3 linked regions of the Homo sapiens genome follow. The protein of the gene in region 2 interacts with the protein of the main gene of each other region in a pairwise test. Each region holds a gene or a part of one and is shown on either strand. Other genes may lie near its edges.

Region 1 (7,014 bases), on a different chromosome or scaffold from region 2:
GTGGCCTGAAATAGCCAAATCATCATTTTTCCTTATAAGTCAGACATTTAGTCTTTGAATTACTGGTAGATGAAAAGAAGAAACACACACACACACACCACACACACACACACACACACACACACACACACACACACACACACACACACACACACACTGAAAAGATGCCCAGAGAAATAAAAAGACAGAAAAAAGGAAATCTTTTCATTCTTCTATGCAAAGGGCCCTGGCTAAATTTAGCTCTTTGTACTGAAGATGTGGCATTTACTTTGATTTACTGCTTCTCTACTTTGAAAAACTCTATCACCTTTCTCCAGGGCCTCAATTTGCTCTTGGGTAAAGGATGTTCTATTTCTTTGCAGCTTCCGCTTCAGCTGAAGTCGCATTTGAGCCTCATCTGAATCTTCTCCGTTGGAACTGATGGAGTTGGTATTCTCTCCCCCTCCTTCCTGTTGCTGGCAGCCATCTGGAACAAAAAGAATAGGATGGTAAGAGAAATTTGGATTAACTTGGAGCCTCCAAAAGGGGCCTGGTGTAGTCTTAAACTCCAAGAGCATTATATCCCGACAGCCTCACCAAAACATTCCCAAGGTAACTGTCAGCCTTCTTTTAAAAAAATACATTTGCGATGTTAGTTACCTGACCACCATTTTCTTTGTTTTTATCAAGATGAGACTTTATAATACACACACTAAGTGGCATTTCTTGAATGAAAAAATAAGCACTGAAGTTTCCAATTAAAATGATCTTTTATAAGTAACCCCAACTCCCCAAATGCCTCACTCCACTCCCTACAGAATCTCTTTACCTATGGCTGTGTTGGGAAAATAGAAGAGTGATGTTCAAGATTTCAGTTGATCTATAATCAGTAATTCCTATCTAATCAATTAGATGTTGATAGGTTTGTAGAAAATGCTATTAAGAAACCAAACCAAGCTTGTAATCTTTTTTAAAAAATATTTATCTAGTTTTTATTTGAATTCTGCACAGTCAATTTCATTTAAAGGTTGTGAATTTAGAAGTGCTCGCATTGTTCTGCAGTTTTATTCAACTATTGTATGAGTGCGCTTCGCCTTGACACCTATTACGAGCACAGCTGTAATTATATCATCACCAAGAACAGGCTATAATTGCTGAAAATGGAATTTTATATTTAGATAAAAGGACTGTCCATTCTTTGTAATGTGTTGCACCAGAGAAAAGTAAGATTTCTTTTAAATTTTTAACGTGTAATTTTAAAAAAGAAATAGTAGAGAGTTCACTAACTAGCTAAATATTCTATGCTGCAGCTGAATCTTTGGCATATCATTTAAGTGGTACATTTTTAATTAGGGCATTTCCACCACTTTGAATGTAACTTCTATCATTATACAGGGGGAAAGTTTTATGGTTTTCCCTTGCTGCCTGGAGGGCAAGATGTGCACTTGGGCTAGCTGGCTCCCGGCTTGCACCTTGCCTGTAAGGCCACAGTGAAGGGAAGCAGGATTGCCTAAACTCTGACTGGGCCTCCAGGGCCACTACAGGCTGGGTCCTGGGTCTGGGGTCCTGAAATGACCCCCAAGGGATACCAGCATGGGCTACCCACCTCCCTATCCTCAAAACTTGGCCAGAGGCGGGGTGGAGGGGCCCCTAGGAGCGCCTTGGTGGGAATCGACTTGGCCAGGAATATTATTTATAACCAGGAGACAATAGGCTGCGCCTTCAAAGAGTTCAGGGAATTGTGACAGGATCTAGTGGGATCTTTTCAGGAACTTTGAAATGTTTTAAAACCCCAACTTTCTCCCCCATTTAAACAGGCGGATTCATCGGCACTGGCCACCATATGGGCCCTTGGAGATCTATTGAGATGACCACCAACACTTGAATAGCGAGGGGCTGCTTTTCAGCGCTGCACAATGCCCCGCGAGTAAGGGAAACTATTAAACTCCTGGGGCAGGAGCGTTGGCAAACTTTCGTGGGCAGAATTTTGAGGCTACAATGAGCGCGGACAACAAAAGGATTCTCTTGAGGCGTGCAGCGGGCCACATTGTGTTACAAGAAGCCCAGTCAACAGACTTTTCAGTGAAGTGTGTTAACCCCTCTGCTCTGCTATCATTAATCACTGTCCGAAGAGCGGGCGCCTCCGTGCTATTTAGGGCGCTTGGCTGGGGGGATGGAGGGTGGATGGGGGGGCCAGGGCCCAGCATGGGGGGAGGCAGGGAGAGTGGACGGGGACCAGGGCTGGGTTCCTACATAGAGGAGATGGAGGGGAGGCAGGATGGAAACCAGCGGTGGGGGTGGAAGCAAGGGGGAAGGATTGGGGGGCCTGGGTTAGGGGAAAGACAGAGGGCGATGGAGGGAAAAAGAGGGCGATGGAGGGGAAAAGAAGGCTCAAAAAACATAGAGGCTAGAAAGGTATTTTTAAAAAAGGACAGAAAAGAATGCTGAGAGGAAAAAGAGACACGAGGGCCGAACAAGAGTGGGAGAGAGAGGAAAAGGAGGATGAGGGCCAGAGAATATTAGTAACTGAGCCCCATCTGGACTCTGGGTCTTTGCACTCCATCAGAAAGGTGGGGGTCGAGGAGGGCTACTTAGCTGAGGGAGACGCGCTCCGCTCACGTGTGCGGGCACAAGCGTCTGTGCTAATTTACTGCCCCAAGTTTCCGGGGACTTTTCAAAGCGTTTTTCAAGGGAAGAAATGAAGCGACCACCCCCACCCCTCGCTTTATTTTCGGGTTTGGTGAAGAAGGAAGACTGGAAATAGCTCCTTTTGGCCAACTAGAAAGGCCGGAGGGTTATTGCTTTTGGAAAACAGACAAAAATCTGTGCACATCTGGTATGGGGTGGGGGACACTGAGGAGAACACAATGCCCATCTCCCCATGGCCACTCATGCCCATGCCTTCCTAGGGGCCCCATCTCGGTCCCTTTTCTGGCACATTCGATCTCGCCAATTAAACAAAGTTGCCCGAATCTGCCTCCGAAGAACCCCGCCGATAGCATGCTCTGCTCTCATTTGCCTCTTTGACATTTTCTTAATTTTAAAACATGGAGATTCACATTCTTATCCATGTTCTGTCTCACACAAACATACACACGGGTTTACACAGGCAGCACGCGATCGCCGCCAGGCCCTGTGCTGCCTCCAGAACTGACACTTAAGAGAGAAAAGTCAGCAGGGACAGTAGAGCTCAATTTTAAATCTGGAAAAAAAAAAAAAAAAAAAAAAGATGGGAAGCGGGGATTGGAATTCCACAGCAAAAAGAAACCTGTCGCTGCAGGATCCCTTCTCTACCCCGCGGGGAGAGCGGCACGGAGACAGTTCATTACTTTAGAAGTGGCAACTGTTTGCAGCCAGGCGGTGACCTAGCGGCTGCTCTTACATAAAATGGGTACATTTCCCCCCACTTTAGTGGATTTGCCTTCCACTCTTAAAGCTTTTAACAAAATAAAACTAGAAGTTGGATCTCGACTCCCCCACCCCCACGATAAACCTAAGTGGTGGACAATTAAGATATCTTCTTCAAAAGGCGCCCCCTCGGAGCCGCGCAAAGCAGGGGCCTTCAGTGGGTGCCGTTCACCTTCCAGCCTAATCCGTGAGAAAGCGAGTGAAAGCGCCTCCCATTATCCCAGCCCCAGGACCATCTGACGATGGGAATAGGATTTGTTTCCTGGAAGGAGGTGAGAGAGAGAGAGAGAGAGAGAGACAGAGAGAGAGTTGCTGGGAAATAAAATCATTCCTTAGTTTCTTAGTGTCTTAATCAGTGAGGCGGAAAACAAGCAAGAAAAGATAGCAACCCGGTTGCGGCACCTTTTCAGCTCTGGAGCGCGGATCAAAACATTGTAGCATCTGTTGAAAGAGAGGCTGACTAAATCCTATAGAGGGCTTGGGTATTATGGGGGGTGGGGGTGGGGTGAGGGGAGGAGATAAGAAAAAGTGTCTCCGTGATCCCTAAAACCACCAAATCGCCGGAGAATTGGGGCTGGATAGAGTTGTCTCTTGTTGTTGTCAGCCCACGTCGTCGCGATTTTATTCACCGCCGCATGGCGTTGATCAGATGGAAACCATATTTGTCTCCCTCTGAGACCTAACCCCCGCCTTATGCTTTTGGAGTATGGACTCTTTAAAACCCAAGAAAGGCTTCCTGGGCTGGGAAAGGGGGCTAGGGAGGGAGGGGGACCCTCTTAGCACCAAAAAGTCTGAGGATTCCCCGGGAACGTGAAGCGAAGCTCACCACCGGTGCCCGCTACCCCCACGCCGGCAACTCTGTGCTTCGTTTGGCCCACGTGTCCTCCCCACGCAACTAGGGGCGACGGTCCTGTGCCTGAGGTGACAATCACCCCCCAAAAACCTCACTTGCGGGTGGGGGGGTGGTGATTGCCAGTTGACCCAGAATTTTCTAGCAACTAGGCGCGTTAAAGTGAAAAGCCCCTGGACTAGCTCCACCTCCGGCCCCAACCATCACAGGCGGACCCTAGCTGATTTGACTCTCACTTCCCGCCCTCAGACTGCCGGCGACGAAAATCCGCCCGAATCGGGCGCCACCTCTGGTGGAAGCTGCTGTCCTCGGCTTCTGCCCAACTCCAAGAAGCGGAAGGGGGGTGTATCCTGCGCCCCAAGCTCATGGGAGCCCACGCACCGGGGAGAGCCCGGAGTGGAGGCTCTGGGCTCAGCCCTCCCAGGCCTAGGCCACCGTGCCCTGAGTCCCTCCCCAAGACTTCTCGGACTAAGTGGGCCAGACTCTTGTCAGGGGAGGGATCACCAGGACCTCAGATTGCTGGGGGCGGAGGGGTGGACGCTCGTGAGTGCGAAGTTCGGGTGTCACTTGGGTGTGTCCAGTGTCTACAAGTGGGAATCCTACGGTTTCAAAAGTCAGGCAGGGATGGGGTTGCCTACACTCGGTGGGGTCAATCGCTAGTCTCACCAGAGGCGGGAGCGGGCCTGGGGGCCCTCTGAGCTCGCGGAGGCGGCGGGTTCGGGGCCCGTGCGGGCGGGGTCGCCCAGGGGAGCCCGGGCCCCGCGCGTCAGGAGGCCTCCGCCGGCCGAGCGGCCGCGCTGGGAAACAAGAAGCGAGCGCTTTGCTCCCTATCTTCCCAGTGTCCGTCCTATATTGTTTTCTGCTCTTAAAACTGACATGTCTAATTGGCAATTGGTGCCGAATCGTGTCCAGAGGTCTCTTGTGGAACATTTCTACAGCTGTCTCCTTCAACTAGACGCTTATTCATGTCGCCTTAATGAGAAACAAAACGTTCTCTAATGAGCAATTACAGAGCGACAGGATTGTTCCCATAACAAATTCTTGCGAGTGACAGAAGCATCCTTTGTACCAGATATTTCGCATACTGTTACCGATTTTCCCTTCCCTCGCCCGACTCCATGGAGGCGCCGGGCATCCGGAGCCGGTCCGAGAGCTCACGGATGCGCCGGCAGCCTCCTCGCAGTCCCGCGCGCCGCCCCTGGCCCCGAGCCCCTCGGCTCCGTTGTGCTCCTGGGAGTGAGACGCCACGTCCCATTATCCCGCATATTATCTCCTTGTCACGAGGACAACAAATACCGATTAATCTTCGGAGTAAACTGTTTCCTATTCTTGACCAAGCTACCTCGGGGTGTGGAGGGGAGCGGAGGGGAGCCAACTGACCCTCCCCTCCGCCCCACCCCCCCCATCCCCCGCTCTTCTTCCTCCAGCCCTTCTCACAGAACCTGGGGTGTTTCAGGTCCCATCTCTCCTCCCAGACCAGAGCGGCTCCCGGCATCCCGCCGTCCTGCTCACAGTATCTTCACCTCACCACTTCCACATAGTCGCCACCCACAGAGAGTGAGAAAGTGGGACCCAGAGGGGCGAACGGGGGAGGGGCAAGGATAGTGGGGTGGTTTTAGTTGGGAGACCACCACTTCCAATGCCCCATCCCCGACTCGCCCTGCATCTCCCTGCTCACCTTTTCATGTGCACCCTACTCATAGTCACATAATTTGTCAATTACAGCAAAAAGCAACAGGATACAATTATGTTAACCTCGCAGTCTGTCAGTGCGTTATCTTGTCACACTTCTACAAGGGGGCTCTCCCTGCATTCTAATGTCAAATTTGAATAGTGCACCACGCAGCTCGTTCTTATGCACACAGTGCTGCCCACAAACACACACACGCACCCACCAGCCACCTTCATACCGCTCCTGACATACACAACCCTCACATTCCCAGGCCAACAAAATGGTTCAACAAACACCACCTACATACAATGTGGTCGATGTGTCCCAGGCCTTCAAATGCAGTCTCACCCATGACATTCCCCAAGCATGGAAGCCCTGAGAGGAAATGGTTGGGAGAGTAGGGGACAGGCAAAGGGATGCACATATGGAGAGCTGCGTGGATGGCTGCTTGGGTTTTACCTTGCGTAGGTTGCCCTGGCACCGAAGTCCCCGGATACCAACCAGGGCGGGTGCCCCAGCTTCCGGTCTGCCCGTTCAACATCCTTAGTTTATCATACATGCCGTCTGCGCCCATCTGTTGCTTTTCGCTAGCCAGGTTGCGAAGAACTCTGTTTATTGATGACACCTGCAAATCAAACCAAAATCAAACCAAATGGTAGTGTCTCCTGAAGACACAGTCACCCATCTCAGCTCACCCACAACCTTAAAAAGCAACTCTCAACCCGTTAAAAAGCTCCCAGCCACCCCGGGACAGTGGGTGGATTTGCAGATACACCGTGGAAAAAATGATAGCTATCACTTTGGGCATGGAAATTTAGTTGGATAGAGAATTGGGCGGAGGGGGTCCTTCACCATTGCTTGGTGTCTCTGGTGACCTAACTCACACGGTTGCTTTGCTTTGTTAAAAGACTGCCCGAAAATAAAAACTATTTAGACTTGTTGTAAAGCTTTCTTTCATTATATTGTTTAATATTAGGATGGAAATGGATGTGTGACACCTGAAGGAAAGTTCTGGCAGGTGGATTAGGACGAAGTTACAATCTGGTTCTCATTTTCCTTCTTCATTCAAGTGCCTTTCCCTGGTGCCTCCGCCCTCTGTTTTGCA
Region 2 (7,064 bases):
GTAAGTACAGCTGGGGACACAACATAACTTACTCTTGGGAAGCATAAAACTCAACTGATGAGAACAGAAGAGTGGGGGTAGCTTTACTATCATTGTTAAACCTGTAATAATGGGGCTTTTAGTCCTTATGTGCTGCAGAGTGAATCAAACAAGGTAGATTAATAGAACAGTTATACAAAGGAATTAAGCATTTCTTTAAGGACTTTCTGATTACTAGGAGAAGAGTGATGGATTTAATTACAGGGGAGGAACTGTTAAATGATGATTGCTACTTGCTGATATTGGAAGAGGTTTGAGAATGACTCGAGTATTAAATTCTGAAAGATTTGACTAGACTCAACGGGAGGCATGCTTTCAGGTGGAGAATGGTGTTTCTTGAAATAACAATATTTTGATGTAGTTGGACTAGAAAATGAGGTCAGAAAAATATAATGAGACCGATCGTGGAAGGCTTTGTTGTTCACACTATGCACTTGATCCAGGAGGCAACTGGAATGAGTTGAAAATGGTGAACAGGGAATTAATATTTTCAGGTTTGTACTTTAAAAGATTTCTGACAGAGTACAGAATCAGTTTATGGAAGGCATGACTGGGACCTACTAGGGGACTGTTCTAGTAATCTAGGAGTTAGATGATAAAGATTCAAATGAAGAGGGAACCAATGATAAAGATTGAATGAAGAGGGAACCGAGGATGACCAGAGAAGGGAAAAAAATGAAATTGAGAATGCAGAATGGAAAGATTAGCTTAGAACAGTAAGAGAGGGATACTTTGATTCTTAAAATTAGAGAATAGTTAAAGAGGGGGGTTGTTATGAGACTTCTCATTCAACAAATATATATCGTTTATCTACTCTTTGCTTAGAGTCTTGGGGAGAATGATGATCTTGGGGAAAAAATATTGTGAGGAGTAAAAATTTATAGGAATCTGTAAAAAAAAAAAATTGAGTTACGGCTGTAGTCAAAATCTGTTGATATTTTCTAATAAGCCCTGAATAGTTCATAATAGCCGCAGAAAAAGAAGCTTGCTTGATCCATGATAGAGGTTGACATGGGATGTGTGTCTTGGAAGAATATTCATGATATTGATGGATTTTGGTAGTGCTCTATGGGTTTTGGCCTGATAGGAGAGGTGGGTTGGGAAAGTGGTAATCAGCTGAGAGAAAAAGGAGTCTTGAGGAGCCTAGAGATAGTTAACTTATTGGTGTTTACCAAGTATATTTCAAGCCAACATCCTAGTTATTTTCTCACCCATAGTCTACTTTAGTCTACTTGGGAGAAAACCTAGGATAATAGGATTTTAAAAGAAGTTATTGTACTTCAAATATGCCACATAAAGTATTATTTTTAAAACAGTTTCTGTCAGAACAACATTTATGCTTTTAAGGATGGGATTAGATCTGATTATATTTTTGTGTTTGTAGTGCTATATAAATTGGCATCAGCTGAGTCTTCTAATGCATTCATAAATTGTGTTCATTTGTTAGAGACAAAAAGAAAGAAGACAAAGAAAAGAAACGTTCTAAAACACCACCAAAAAGTTACAGCACAGCCAGACGTTCTAGAAGTGCAAGCAGGTAAGGTGGCATTGTGAATTCTTGGCAATTATTTTTTTAACTTTGCTTCTAACAGTATCAGTACGCTGTCAGTATGAAGTCTTTTCCAGAACATAAGTATTTCAGTGTTGAAAAAAGTTACATTTTGCTGTTATTTAAAGTTTTTAAAAGGCAATTTGTGAAGAATAATGTAGTTTATTTTTCTTTTTACTTAATATTTTATGGTCTAGAGTATATTTGAAGTAACATGGAATTCAAGAGAGGTGAGTTTTTCTCTTTATAGTTTAAGTTTTAATGGCTAAACCATACTGAATTGTTCCATTAAGTAAGCTTATTATAGTAAGCTATATTTATCATCTGCATGTTAGTACTTGAGAATTTTTCTATCCCTTTTAATGACTGTTGAATTAATGGGAAGCAATGCAGGTTCTGGTTTGTGTCATTCTTAGACTAATTCTATCTTTAAGCTGTCAGTGAAAATTGAAATGTTGCAGACCTTACTGCACAAAAAGCACATTTTCATACTTAATTTGGGATTTATATGATAGTAAGGGCTGGACTTCATTCCATTTTTCAGATCTCATTCACATGTTTTGCTGCAGTGCTTGTTTTATTCATCAACATTACTTAAATTCACTAGGAGAAGGTTCATGCCATATAAAAAAAAATAACTGAAATGTATAAAAGACCTAAATGTAAGAGCCAAAACTATAAAACCTTTAGAAAGAAACAAAAGTGAATCTTTAAGACCATGAGCTTGGTGGTTTCCTAGATATGACTTCAAAAGCATAAGCAACAGAAGAAAAGAAAATTTTGGAATTCACCAAAAGTTAAAACATTTGTATTTCAAAGGATACTATCAAGAAAGTAAAAACCTAGAGTGCTAGTTAGAAAATTCTTTATATATTCTCTATTAAGAACTCTTAGAACTCAGCAATAGACAGGCAACCCAATTTAAAAATGGCAAAGAATCTGTAGCCATTACTCCAAAGGAGATATGCAAATATCTAGTAAGTACATAAAATCTGTTCAACATCATTAGTCACCAAGGAAATACAAACCAGACCACAGTGAGATATGTCACAGTCACTAGGATGGTTATAAATCAAAAAGACAGATGATAGCTGAGCCTGACAGATGATAGTAAGTGTTGATTAGGATGTGGAGAAATTAGAACCCTGTGCATTGCTAGTATGAATATAAACTGGTACAGGTGTTTTAGAAAACAGTCTGGCATTTCCTAAAAATGTTAAACATAGAGGTTTTTGACCCACCAGTTGTACCCCTGGGGGAAAATGAAAACATTTTCACAGAAAAACTTTTATGTGAATGTTTGTGGCATTATTTCATAATAGCCAAAAAGTTAACTATCCATTAACAAATGGATAAACAGAATGGTATATCTATACAATTGAATATTTTTCAGTGATAAATAAGGTTGATACATGCTACAGTATGGATGAAACTTGCAAACATCCATGAAAGGCCGTGTATTGCGTGATTCCTTTTATATGAAATGCCCAGAATAGGCAAATCTATAAAGATACCAAGTAGATTACTGATTGCTGGGGAGATAGGGAGGATTAGAGTGATAACTAAAGGGTAGGGAGTTTTTGGGGTGGTGAAAATTTTCTTAAAAACTAAATTTTTAAGCATGAAAATGAAACCAAATGTAAGTACAGAAGGAAATGCTGAATCAGGCCTGAGGGATAGGTGGCAAAGAGATAGAAAAGATGGAAGGTACTACATATATTTTCTTACCTTAAAAACTGTTGAGGATTTTTTTTTTTACCTGTTGCTTTATATAATGTACTTGTAAGTGCCTTCTCATGCTGTATTATTGGATCACTCTAAATTAAGGCATCTTCTGTGAGTTATTAAATACCCACTGTGTTTGTAGTTGTGCTACAGTCTGTTGAAGGACACGGAAATGTAATATAAAATACTTCTTCCGTCTAGAGAATTTGGAGTTTCAGTTACATAAGACAGTAGCAAAAAGTATAAGGTGCACAGTCGTGACAATGTTTGATAAGTGAATGCTCAGTTATGTGTAACGTTTCCAGGACAAGGGTCACAGAGGGCTGTGTAAGTAGAAAAAAAGCTTCATTTGGAAATTAGACAACTAAGTACAGGGTTTTTTAAGTCTGATAACTTTTGAGAATCAGGAACAGAATTTTTTTTTTTAAGTTACAGTAAAAAGGAGGGGAAGGCTGTATATCAGCTGTATATCTTCAAAGTAATTGGTGAAAGCAGGGTTTTGGGGGACTGCAGGAGGGCGATTTTGCTAGAGTATAAGGTTTCTACCTTTCCACTAACTAGTTCTCTGAATTTCATCTAATGATTTAAAGGTGAATGTGGGGATATTTTATTAGTAACTACCTTCTATATCACATTATTGAATTATTCTGTACTTACTCTGAACACTGAATGTTTGAACCAAAAACTAACTTCTTCAGTAATAGTTTACTTCACACGTCACCCCTCTCGCATTAGTTTTGTTAAATCAGTTTTTTCTCAAGCTTAGTATTTCTAACATTTTGTCATCAATTAAAAGAATTACTAGAAATTAGGAGTTTTCTTGAGGGTAGTAAAGGGAAAGATTCATGGTTTGCAGATGATTATATTACTCATTTAATTGTTTAGCTTATACCAGTATTGTGAAACAATCTTTCATTTTTCTGTTTTTTTGAGACAGGGTCTCTCTCTGTTGCCCAGGCTGGAGTGCAGTGGCCCTATCACAACTCACTCCAGCTTCAACCTCCGCAGGCTCAAGTGATCTTCCTGCCTCTGCCTCCTGAGTAGCTGGGACTACAGGCATGCACCACCACACCTGGCTAATTTTTTTGTATTTTTTGTAGAGACAGAGTTTCACCATGTTGCCCAGGCTGGTCTGGAACTCCTGGGCTCAAGCAATCCCCTCACCTCAGCCTGCCAAAGTGCTGGGATTATAGGCATGAGCCACTACATCTGGCCACATCTTTCATTGTTAGAATCATCTATGATGTGTCTGCATTTTTAAGATCACACTGTATTTTAAAACCTAGTTTGCACATTTGTGATTCTAGAGAGAGACGACGACGAAGAAGCAGGAGTGGCACAAGATCTCCTAAAAAGCCTCGGTCTCCTAAAAGAAAATTGTCCCGCTCACCATCCCCTAGGAGGTAAGAATGTTAATCATTTAAATGTATTTTTTATATTTTTCAGAGGTTTTTCATTTTAAAACTGTCCTGTAGTTTTTCTTTTCAGCAGTTACAGTTCTTAAGAATGTTTTAATGTATTCTCCTTCTGACTTGTGACTTAAACACCATTAAGGACTGAACATTTTAGTCCTATAAACAAGTTAGTTTTGTAGCCTGTGTTACTTCTCCAAGGTTTTGAAGTTGGATCTTTGCTGTACTACTTATATCCTGTGAAATTGAGTCAGGCTCATCATCTAAACAAGTTAAACCTGTTGCTGTACATTTTACTGTCATTCTAGACATAAAAAGGAGAAGAAGAAAGATAAAGACAAAGAAAGAAGTAGGGATGAAAGAGAACGATCAACAAGCAAGAAGAAGAAGAGTAAAGATAAGGAAAAGGACCGGGAAAGAAAATCAGAGAGTGATAAAGATGTAAAAGTATGTTTACAAATTGATTTATTTTTATATTTGGGGTGATGTTGGTACTTTCAGAAGTTATTTTTCTTTGGAGAAGTTTACTTTTATTATTCTCCTTGGCAAAGCAGGTTACACGGGATTATGATGAAGAGGAACAGGGGTATGACAGTGAGAAAGAGAAAAAAGAAGAGAAGAAACCAATAGAAACAGGTTCCCCTAAAACAAAGGAATGTTCTGTGGAAAAGGGAACTGGTGATTCACTAAGAGAATCCAAAGTGAATGGGGATGATCATCATGAAGAAGACATGGATATGAGTGACTGAATATTGCCTCTGAGGGAGTCCAACTGTATACCTGCATCAGTGTCATTCCTTTGTGTGATTTCTTAATGCTGTATTTGTTCATCTCAAACCTAGATGTATACAGCTCTGAGTTATAAATGGTTATAAAGCTCCTGTTACTCATATTAGTTATTTACATCAAAAAGCTTTTAGAAAATGGTACGAGGTAACCAATTCTTGTCATGGTGAAATCTGATTGAGTAACCAAGCAGTTTTACTATTCTGGTGCTGCTTCATAACAAAAATGAAAAGCTGCATGCATCTACAGCAGGCATGGATTGTTTATGTCGTATGATATCCTTTATTAAGTAAGTTCACTTATAGTATTTCTATAATTTGATTCATTGCCGTAATAGAGCCATGTAGGAAATGCACTGATTGCATGTTATTGTGGCAAGAATATCCTAAATGTCATTAAAATCCTCCAACATGATGGATCTACTTATGGTCTTGTTTGTTGACATGACAAATTAACATTCTTATAGTTACATCTGGAAATGAGCATTTGAAATAGATAATCCTTTAAGCCTTGTGGCAAAATTTTTGTGGCTTTTGTTTAACTTTGAAAGGTTATTATGCACTAACCTTTTTTGGTGGCTAATTAGGGTTTAAATACAGAAACAAGATTTCAAATAAAACTGTCTTTGGCAGTGAGTAAATAGCATATTTTGAAGTAGAGTTGTATACTTTTTCATAAGATGTTTGGGAATTTTTTTCCTGAAGTAATAATTTATTCCACATCTACATCAGTGAAAGCTATCTACCTATCCTGAGTCTATCTTAAAGGAAAAAAAGAAAAAAACCTTATCTCTTGCCCTTATTTTGAATTTTCCACTCTTTCATTAATTTGTTTTAAGCTCCGTGTTGGAAAAAAGGGGTAGTGCATTTTAAATTGACCTTCATACGCTTTTAAAATAAGACAAATCTACTTGATAATGTACCTTTATTTGATCTCAAGTTGTATAAAACCAATAAATTTGTGTTACTGCAGTAGTAATCTTATGCACACGGTGATTTCATGTTATATATGCAAAGTAGGCAACTGTTTTCTTAGTTACAGAAGTTTCAAGCTTCACTTTTGTGCAGTAGAAACAAAAGTAGGCTACAGTCTGTGCCATGTTGATGTACAGTTTCTGAAATTGTTTTACAAGACTTTGATAATAAAACCCTTAAACTTATGTTCATGTTCCTGTAAAACCGTATTTGTATTTATTTACGCTACTGAATGTATGACATTTACCTCATTCATTTTACAAATTCTTTCCCTTTCTGTCCACATATTTCAGTATAGTAAAAAGAGGAAGTCTATCACTGTAGTGATAATTGCCATCAAAATTGTCAAAAATGATTTAATTTCTATCCAAAATAGTCCTTTTCTTAGCTTAGTATCATTTTATTGCTTATTTTTTGTGTGGGAATGGGGTTGGATAAAGCAATGAACTTTAGTATAAACAAATCCCACCTATATCTAGCAAATTTATATTTTCGGTGAAATACAGATATTTGCCTTTCTGGAGTAGTATAGAAGCTGTCAATATGTATCTACTGTACAGTACTAAATAGTATTCATTT
Region 3 (7,014 bases), on a different chromosome or scaffold from region 2:
AATTGGTCAAGTTTATACAACCAGTAAATGACTGGGTTTGTATTTGACTCCAAGACCATGCATCTCACCGTTATACACCTCTGGTACCAGCCACTGCTCTGTTACCCACTAGGAAGTTAACAGAAGGCCCGTAGTCATGGATCTTGGGCATATCATGGTAGTGGGCCCTTGATATTTCCTTTTAAAAATGATTTTCTTTTTCCAAGCTCTACTACAAATTTGAATTTTCCTTGCCGCAACTATGCGCCTTCTTCATTTCCTACGTCTCCGTTCAAGACCCACCTCTTCTTACGAGCTTGATGTGGCTACTCTCTCAACACCTGTGCTGTTTCTATGCCACAGAGCTAGTGTTTCCTTTGTACTGCCTCTCATTATGTACAGTTGTTTCGTGGTCCAAATTTTCTCTCATCAATGAGGACAGAATGACTTTCTTTTCATATTTCTTAATCAGATCACTGTGTCGTCCCTAGTGATCTGATACATAGTAGCTATTTATTATTTACTGATCAGTTTTAGTAGAGAAAATTTTTAGATAATCTTAACAACAGATATTTTGTCATTTTGTTTCTTATCCAGTGATACTGCTTAGCTGTTAATCATGTATTAATGTGACATACTTACCTGAAGATAATCAGAATATAAATTGTTGGGTTTGTTTATTTTTTTAACATCTGTTTTTGTCTGTCTCATTTTTAACTTGGCAGCCACACAACAGCCACTTAGTTTACCAGAAGGAGAAATCACCACGATTGAAATTCATCGGTCCAATCCTTACATTCAGTTAGGAATCAGCATTGTGGGTGGCAACGAAACACCTTTGATTAACATTGTCATCCAGGAGGTCTATCGGGATGGGGTCATTGCCAGAGACGGGAGACTTCTTGCTGGAGACCAGATTCTTCAGGTATCAGTTTTAATTATTCTGTTAACTTGTGCCTTTTTGTTCCATTCTTAACACTTAAACCTTAGAAAATTGTGCTGTTTTGGAACCTAAATTATATATAGATTAGTTTTACTGTTTCTATATGCAAAACATCAGAATTTATGTGTAATTTGTGGTATTTTCCCATATACACAGAGTATTTTTTCTTCCTATCTTAATTTTCATTCCTGCATGCGATGTGGCTTGGCACATGATCTCAGGCTTGCTGAGCTAGCTAGACTCTTCCTTGGGCTGACTAGCCTCTTCCTGCTTGGACTTCTTGAATGACTGTTCAAGGGTCACCTTCATCCATGTTGAAATTATCATCTCATTGGTATTATTTTATACCCAGTTTTCCCATTCATTACCTTCATTGTTGGATTTATCCTTTTCTATACAGACTACTAAAATCTAGAAAAGAAGGAACCATGCAGCACTCATAATTTATACCACAGATTATAAGATAGAGTTCAGAAATCTTGCAGTCATCTCCTATCAACTCCCTAATGCACTCTCCTCAGCAAACACTCTAACTCTGCATTTTCAATAATCCCCTTCGCTCCCCTTACTGTTTTCCCTTTCAGAAGATGATCTTTAAGAAGAAACAGGTATTCTCCAGAAATAACTAGCATGGGACAAGATATTTTATTAGAGGGCAAGTTGAGATGAGGGGAGGAGGATGGTAAGAGTTCTACAATCCCGGAGTTGATGTTAATACCGGCCTGGACCATTTTCATCATACAAAGGTGATAATAATTGAAGCTTAAAAACGGATAACTTCTAGGAGAGAGAGGAAATATTCATGAACAAGAAAAAATGTCTCCTGTCAACCCAAGCGCAGGGACTCCTCTCTCTCCTTGGATTTGTGGTTCGGTCCTTCACCATGACCTGTTGATATCTACCCCCTACTTCCATTTTCCTGCCACTTCTTGAGTCTAGGACTTCTCTTCTTCATATCTAATTTAGTAGAATACCCCATCATATACTTCTGCCTCCCAACTCTCCTCCCTTAAATCTGAAACAATCACTGCCAGGTTAATACATCAGTAACCCTGCTTGCCTTGCAAAGGTTCAACTAGGAGGTCAAGTCCAGACTGATTAATCTAATAGTCAGGGTCCTCCACGGTCTCTTCTACAACCTGTCTTGTTAATCTCAATTCTTCATTTCAGGCACACCAGCTCATTCATTTCTCACAACATTCTAGGCACTATACTAGTTGCTGGTGGTACATTTCAGAGCAAAATACTGACCTGTCCTCGTGGAATATACAATCTAGTGGAAGAGCCAGACATAGCAGTCTTCTTCCTTCCCTGCAAACACCTTATTCCCACATTGCAGCCTGTCCTCATCTCATGAGCCAGTTTGTTCACCTTCATCCTTAAAGCTTTTGTTCAGCCATTCTCCCCCATACTGATTCCTCCTACATTAGTTATTATTGGCATTCATCACTTTTCTCTTCATCACTTGGCACGTGATGAGTTACAGAGAATTGTTTGAACATTTTACGTATGTAGGCATGATCTAAGGTAATTGCAACCACCCTAATGGTACAGATTATGATACAGATTTCTCATAGCTTGTAGTAAGTGCTCAGAAAATATTTGCTGAGTCAATAAAAGAGTGAATTTGAATATAAGATGCTGTTGGGAATAGCCATCTCCTTTATTAAAAGAAAAACTTGGTTAGGATTTTTAGTTGTTGAAAAGAAATCTCTAGACTTGGGGCTATGGGAGTCTACAAAGGCAGCCAGGATTGACCCTACTAGGGATTCTTGGGTTTGATTTCCACTCCCGCTTGTATGCTGCTTTTCATGGTGTATTATTCCTGAAAATAATTAACACCAAGCCTAAAACCTTTCCTTCATTACCCCTAGGCATGGCTGAGACAGACTGAGCTTTCAAACAGTGTTTTTTTTACCAAATACTTAGATGTAATAGACGAATACAGGAACATAACTAATCCAGCTCATATAAAATCAGATTTCTGATCCTGTCATAGCTAGCTATTTAGTTATCCTAGCTGCATTTTATGATATTAGTACTTTAGCTGCACAGGCTGGCACAACTTGTAGGACCCCTTGTATTATTTACATCCTAGCTCCTGACTTGATTTTGCAGAGAGCGACTCTTACAGCTCATTTCCCAGGTTCATCCTCCCAGACATCTTGACACTTTGGTGGTCAGGACCAGGAAGGGCAGATAGTCCTTTTCTGCAGCCCACTGAGTGTTCTTTGACTCTCCCACTTCTGGGCTTTTTAGCTGAAATGTAAGTGTACACTTATTTTTTGCTACTAGCCCAGTATTGTTACAAATGTTTTTATTTATATTTCTTTGAATATAACAGATTTGTTTAAGTTTTTTTACTAATACATTTCATCAGTGGGCTTGTTTCTATTTTAGAGAATGGTTCATTAACACTACTGAATCTTTAGACCTCAAAAGATTGTAATTATCTGAAATTATCAACCATATTTTTGGGAATTAATTCAGTTATAAAGTCTACATTGTAGAAATTCCACTGCATTATTACTGTTTATGGAAACCTGTATACTAATAACTCCAATAATGGCAATCTTACATCTAGTTTAATGATTCAAATTGATAAGAAAAGTCTGAGCACATAATCTGATTAATGAATTCACAAAGGGTCTCTCCTATTATAGGCCCTGACTTCTGGTTGGCTTTTAACTGGTGTGTTGGAGCCAAGTAAAGCCACCCCCCTTTCCCACATATGGACTATTTATGGTTATTCAAGAGTAAACACTTGGAAAGAGGCCTATTGGTATTTTTTACTATCTGGTTACCTCCAACTTTGTATAAGCTAAATAAATATAACACAGTGAGCCAATTTGAAAATCTCGAAGAGGCAGTAAGATGGTTGATTTGCAGACCAGAGAGCTAGCTTGCATTTTCATTTTTGCAGACCATATACATAAGCAGTGTGTGGCTTTGGTGGTTTTCCCACATTTATATATATTTATTTACATATACAAATGTTATTAAATAGCCTCTTTGAAAAGGAGAACCATATGCTGTTAGAGCTTTTTGCTACTCTTAGAGTTTCATATGCAGCCTCTTTGAGCAGTTTTGAAGAAAAAAAAATACTGCTATTATAAATTACCTCAATATCATTAATAAAAGTAATATAACTTAGAACATTATTAAGAATAAGTATTTTCAGTTTAATGAAGTCATCAATAATGGCATTTTCAGTTCTGAAGGAAAATAATTACAGCTGTTGATTGATAAAAAAATACATTTAGCTCAAAAATGAGATAGTTTGCTATGCTGATGTTATTTTTACAAAATCTAGAAACAATATTTTATTTGGTTTCTGCTTTCTCTGAATTTCACTGGCAACCATGCATTCCTGGAGGAAAAATCTTTTTCCAGTTGTAGAATATTCCCCAGCCTGCTTCACAAAGATGTTATGAGGCTGCATGTTTACACATGGCTGGATTTTAGCCAGACGTTTTGTAAAGTCATTTGTGATATGTGTGATATGTCTGAATATAAGACAGAAAAATGTGAACCTACAGGTAGGTAGCTTTGTAGCTAAATAGTTGGAAATGGTGGTTTGACTAATGAATCTATATCTGCGTGGATTTTTAGAAGCTGCTTTCTAAATATAATAGAACTTCAGAAGTTCCATTCTTGACCCTGTATTATTCAATACTTTTACCAAGGACTTGGATGACTACCAAATTAATAGATGTTGCAGACTTGGGAGAAAGCAAGTTTGTGTGTGACATCTGTGCATTTGGTGACTGAATTCTGAAAGGTGTTAATAGGTCAAAATCAACAAAATTCAAAATAGTATTTACAACTATCAATCCTAAGTCAATAGGAAGAGGAAAGTCTTGCCTAATGTGGATTTGTGTGAAAAAGATGTAAGAATTTTAGGTGATCATAAACACCTAACTCAGAGCCTGTCATATAACAGATGGTCAGAGGATGTTGGTTTCATCTCAGACCGATTCAGAGAAGAACTCTAATTGTGATAAATGCTAAGAATCATGCTCATCTCTTGTAACTAAAGAAATAATTGAAGTTAGGTGTATTTTCTAAGTGCTGTTACATACCCAAGGATCAGTCACTATACTTTTTTTGAGATTATAAAGGTGAATACATAAATGTTATATGAGTATTGAATAATGCATTAGATATACATTATATTTTACTTTTAATGGTAAAAACCGTAATTACTTTTGCACCAACCTAATATTTCTGTGCTGAAGAATTAGAGTGAAATTACAATTAACCTGGTTTTCTTTCAGGTAAAAGTCACTTATCTAAAATAAGTTTGTATACCTGAAATGTGCTACTTTCCTTAAAATAACAATTTATTTTCTCTAGCTTAAGTGTATTTAATTTGGAAGAAGCAAATTTGTAATCTAGTAAAACTTAAATTTCTGTTCCACTAGAATTAGTATTTATTTCATTAGCACTTGCCCCATGTTAATCTGTTCATTCTCATACTGATCCCATGAAGTAAACACATTTTACAGATGAGGAGACTCATTCAGACAAGTTCTATAATTTGCCTAAGTTATCAGTTAGTAAATGGTAGTACCTAGGACTCTAATTCAAGACCGTCATTAAAGCCCGTGATCCTAGCTACTATTCTCTCCTTGATGCTAGTCACTGTAAGTTAATATTAGAAACTCTGTTTTTAAATGTCTTTAATGTGGTTTTCTTTGTAAATAATGATTGTATAGCATTCTCACCATACTTAGCACTCTCACAATACTTAGTTTCCTGTGGAAATGTCACATAAACATTCCTACAAATTGGAAAAATAAAAGGTTGTCACACTTCGGTCACAATTCTTTTTTTCTAGGTCAACAACTACAATATCAGCAATGTGTCCCATAACTATGCCCGAGCTGTCCTTTCCCAGCCCTGCAACACACTGCATCTTACTGTGCTTCGAGAGAGGCGCTTTGGCAACCGAGCACACAACCATTCTGATAGTAACTCTCCACGAGAAGAGATTTTCCAAGTGGCTCTTCATAAACGGGACTCTGGTGAACAGCTTGGCATTAAATTGGTGCGAAGGACAGATGAGCCAGGGGTTTTTATTCTTGACCTGTTGGAAGGGGGGTTGGCTGCCCAGGACGGCAGGCTAAGCAGCAATGACCGAGTGCTGGCCATCAATGGGCACGACCTGAAGTATGGAACTCCGGAGCTTGCTGCCCAGATTATTCAGGTAAACCCTCTTGGCCTTCATTCCAAAGGCTTGGCCGAAATGATCATATAGTAGTATTTGTTTTCACTGGCCAATAACATCAGAATTCAGGGGACATTTTATATTTCATTAGAAAATCGGGTGTGGCTACCTGAATTCTTTAAAATCCACACTAGTATAACTTCATTGGAGATAGTCTTTTCTAAAAACTATATCCCTGTGAATTTTGGGGATGGTTATTTACAGAGCGTAGGCTCTACTGTTTCACATTCATTTCTCATTTGGGTCCTGGGTTCTACTATTAAGCCAGATGTAGCAGATGATATGTCCACCTTTTAGAAGTGAGGAAAGGGAGGCTCAAAAGAGCTGTGATTACCAAGGATCTGACTTACCTGGTCTCTTAACTCCCTGTCAGGATCTATATAAATAGAGGAAGAATAACTCTTATCTCTATAGTGCTTTGTTGTTGTTTCTAAGGAATTCACAGTGTTTAAAATACATGATAAAATTTGTCCTCATAGCATCTTTGTGACATAAGTAAGGATAGTCATTATTAGAGAAAGAACATGTTTTTCATAAAAGCATGAAGATGGATAAGTTGGAAAGTCATCCAGAGGAGATCTATACATTCTGCAACATGCCATAGCATTTAATGATATGAGCAACTTCTACAGTGATAAGGGTGCAACAAAAAGATGTTTTTCTTAAAGTTAGCAAAACAAAACACTGTAAAGGAAACCAAGAATTATGTAATTGAGGATCAGGAAGTAGGGTAGGCCGATAGTCATTGAAGAATGTGTTTACAACACAGAATCAAATAACAATGAAAATTTAAGACTATAAGAAAATTCAAGTCTCAACTCTCTTTATTGTATTGAGAGGAGATTCTGATATTGGTCTAATT

The links. The genes of interacting proteins can lie anywhere in the genome.
Region 1: the proteins of SRSF11 (region 2) and PAX6 interact in binary tests that used the Homo sapiens proteins (3 or more experiments, as listed by UniProt).
Region 3: the proteins of SRSF11 (region 2) and LNX2 interact in a two-hybrid assay, tested with the Homo sapiens proteins (3 studies listed by BioGRID and IntAct).

What each region holds. Positions count from the first base shown.
Region 1 is NC_000011.10:31,794,323-31,801,336, forward strand, and holds part of PAX6 (paired box protein Pax-6), read right to left. Parts: exon of another isoform or gene 6,908-7,014; intron 6,535-6,907; coding exon 6,369-6,534; intron 6,340-6,368; exon of another isoform or gene 6,217-6,339; intron 467-6,216; coding exon 308-466; intron 1-307. UniProt on the Homo sapiens protein: Transcription factor with important functions in the development of the eye, nose, central nervous system and pancreas. Required for the differentiation of pancreatic islet alpha cells.
Region 2 is NC_000001.11:70,245,332-70,252,395, forward strand, and holds part of SRSF11 (serine/arginine-rich splicing factor 11), read left to right. Parts: intron 1-1,486; coding exon 1,487-1,576; intron 1,577-1,785; coding exon of another isoform or gene 1,786-1,801; exon of another isoform or gene 1,802-1,818; intron 1,819-4,599; coding exon of another isoform or gene 4,600-4,620; coding exon 4,621-4,716; intron 4,717-5,033; coding exon 5,034-5,172; intron 5,173-5,276; coding exon 5,277-5,474; 3' UTR 5,475-7,064. UniProt on the Homo sapiens protein: May function in pre-mRNA splicing.
Region 3 is NC_000013.11:27,561,530-27,568,543, reverse strand, and holds part of LNX2 (ligand of Numb protein X 2), read left to right. Parts: intron 1-704; coding exon 705-904; intron 905-5,762; coding exon 5,763-6,131; intron 6,132-7,014.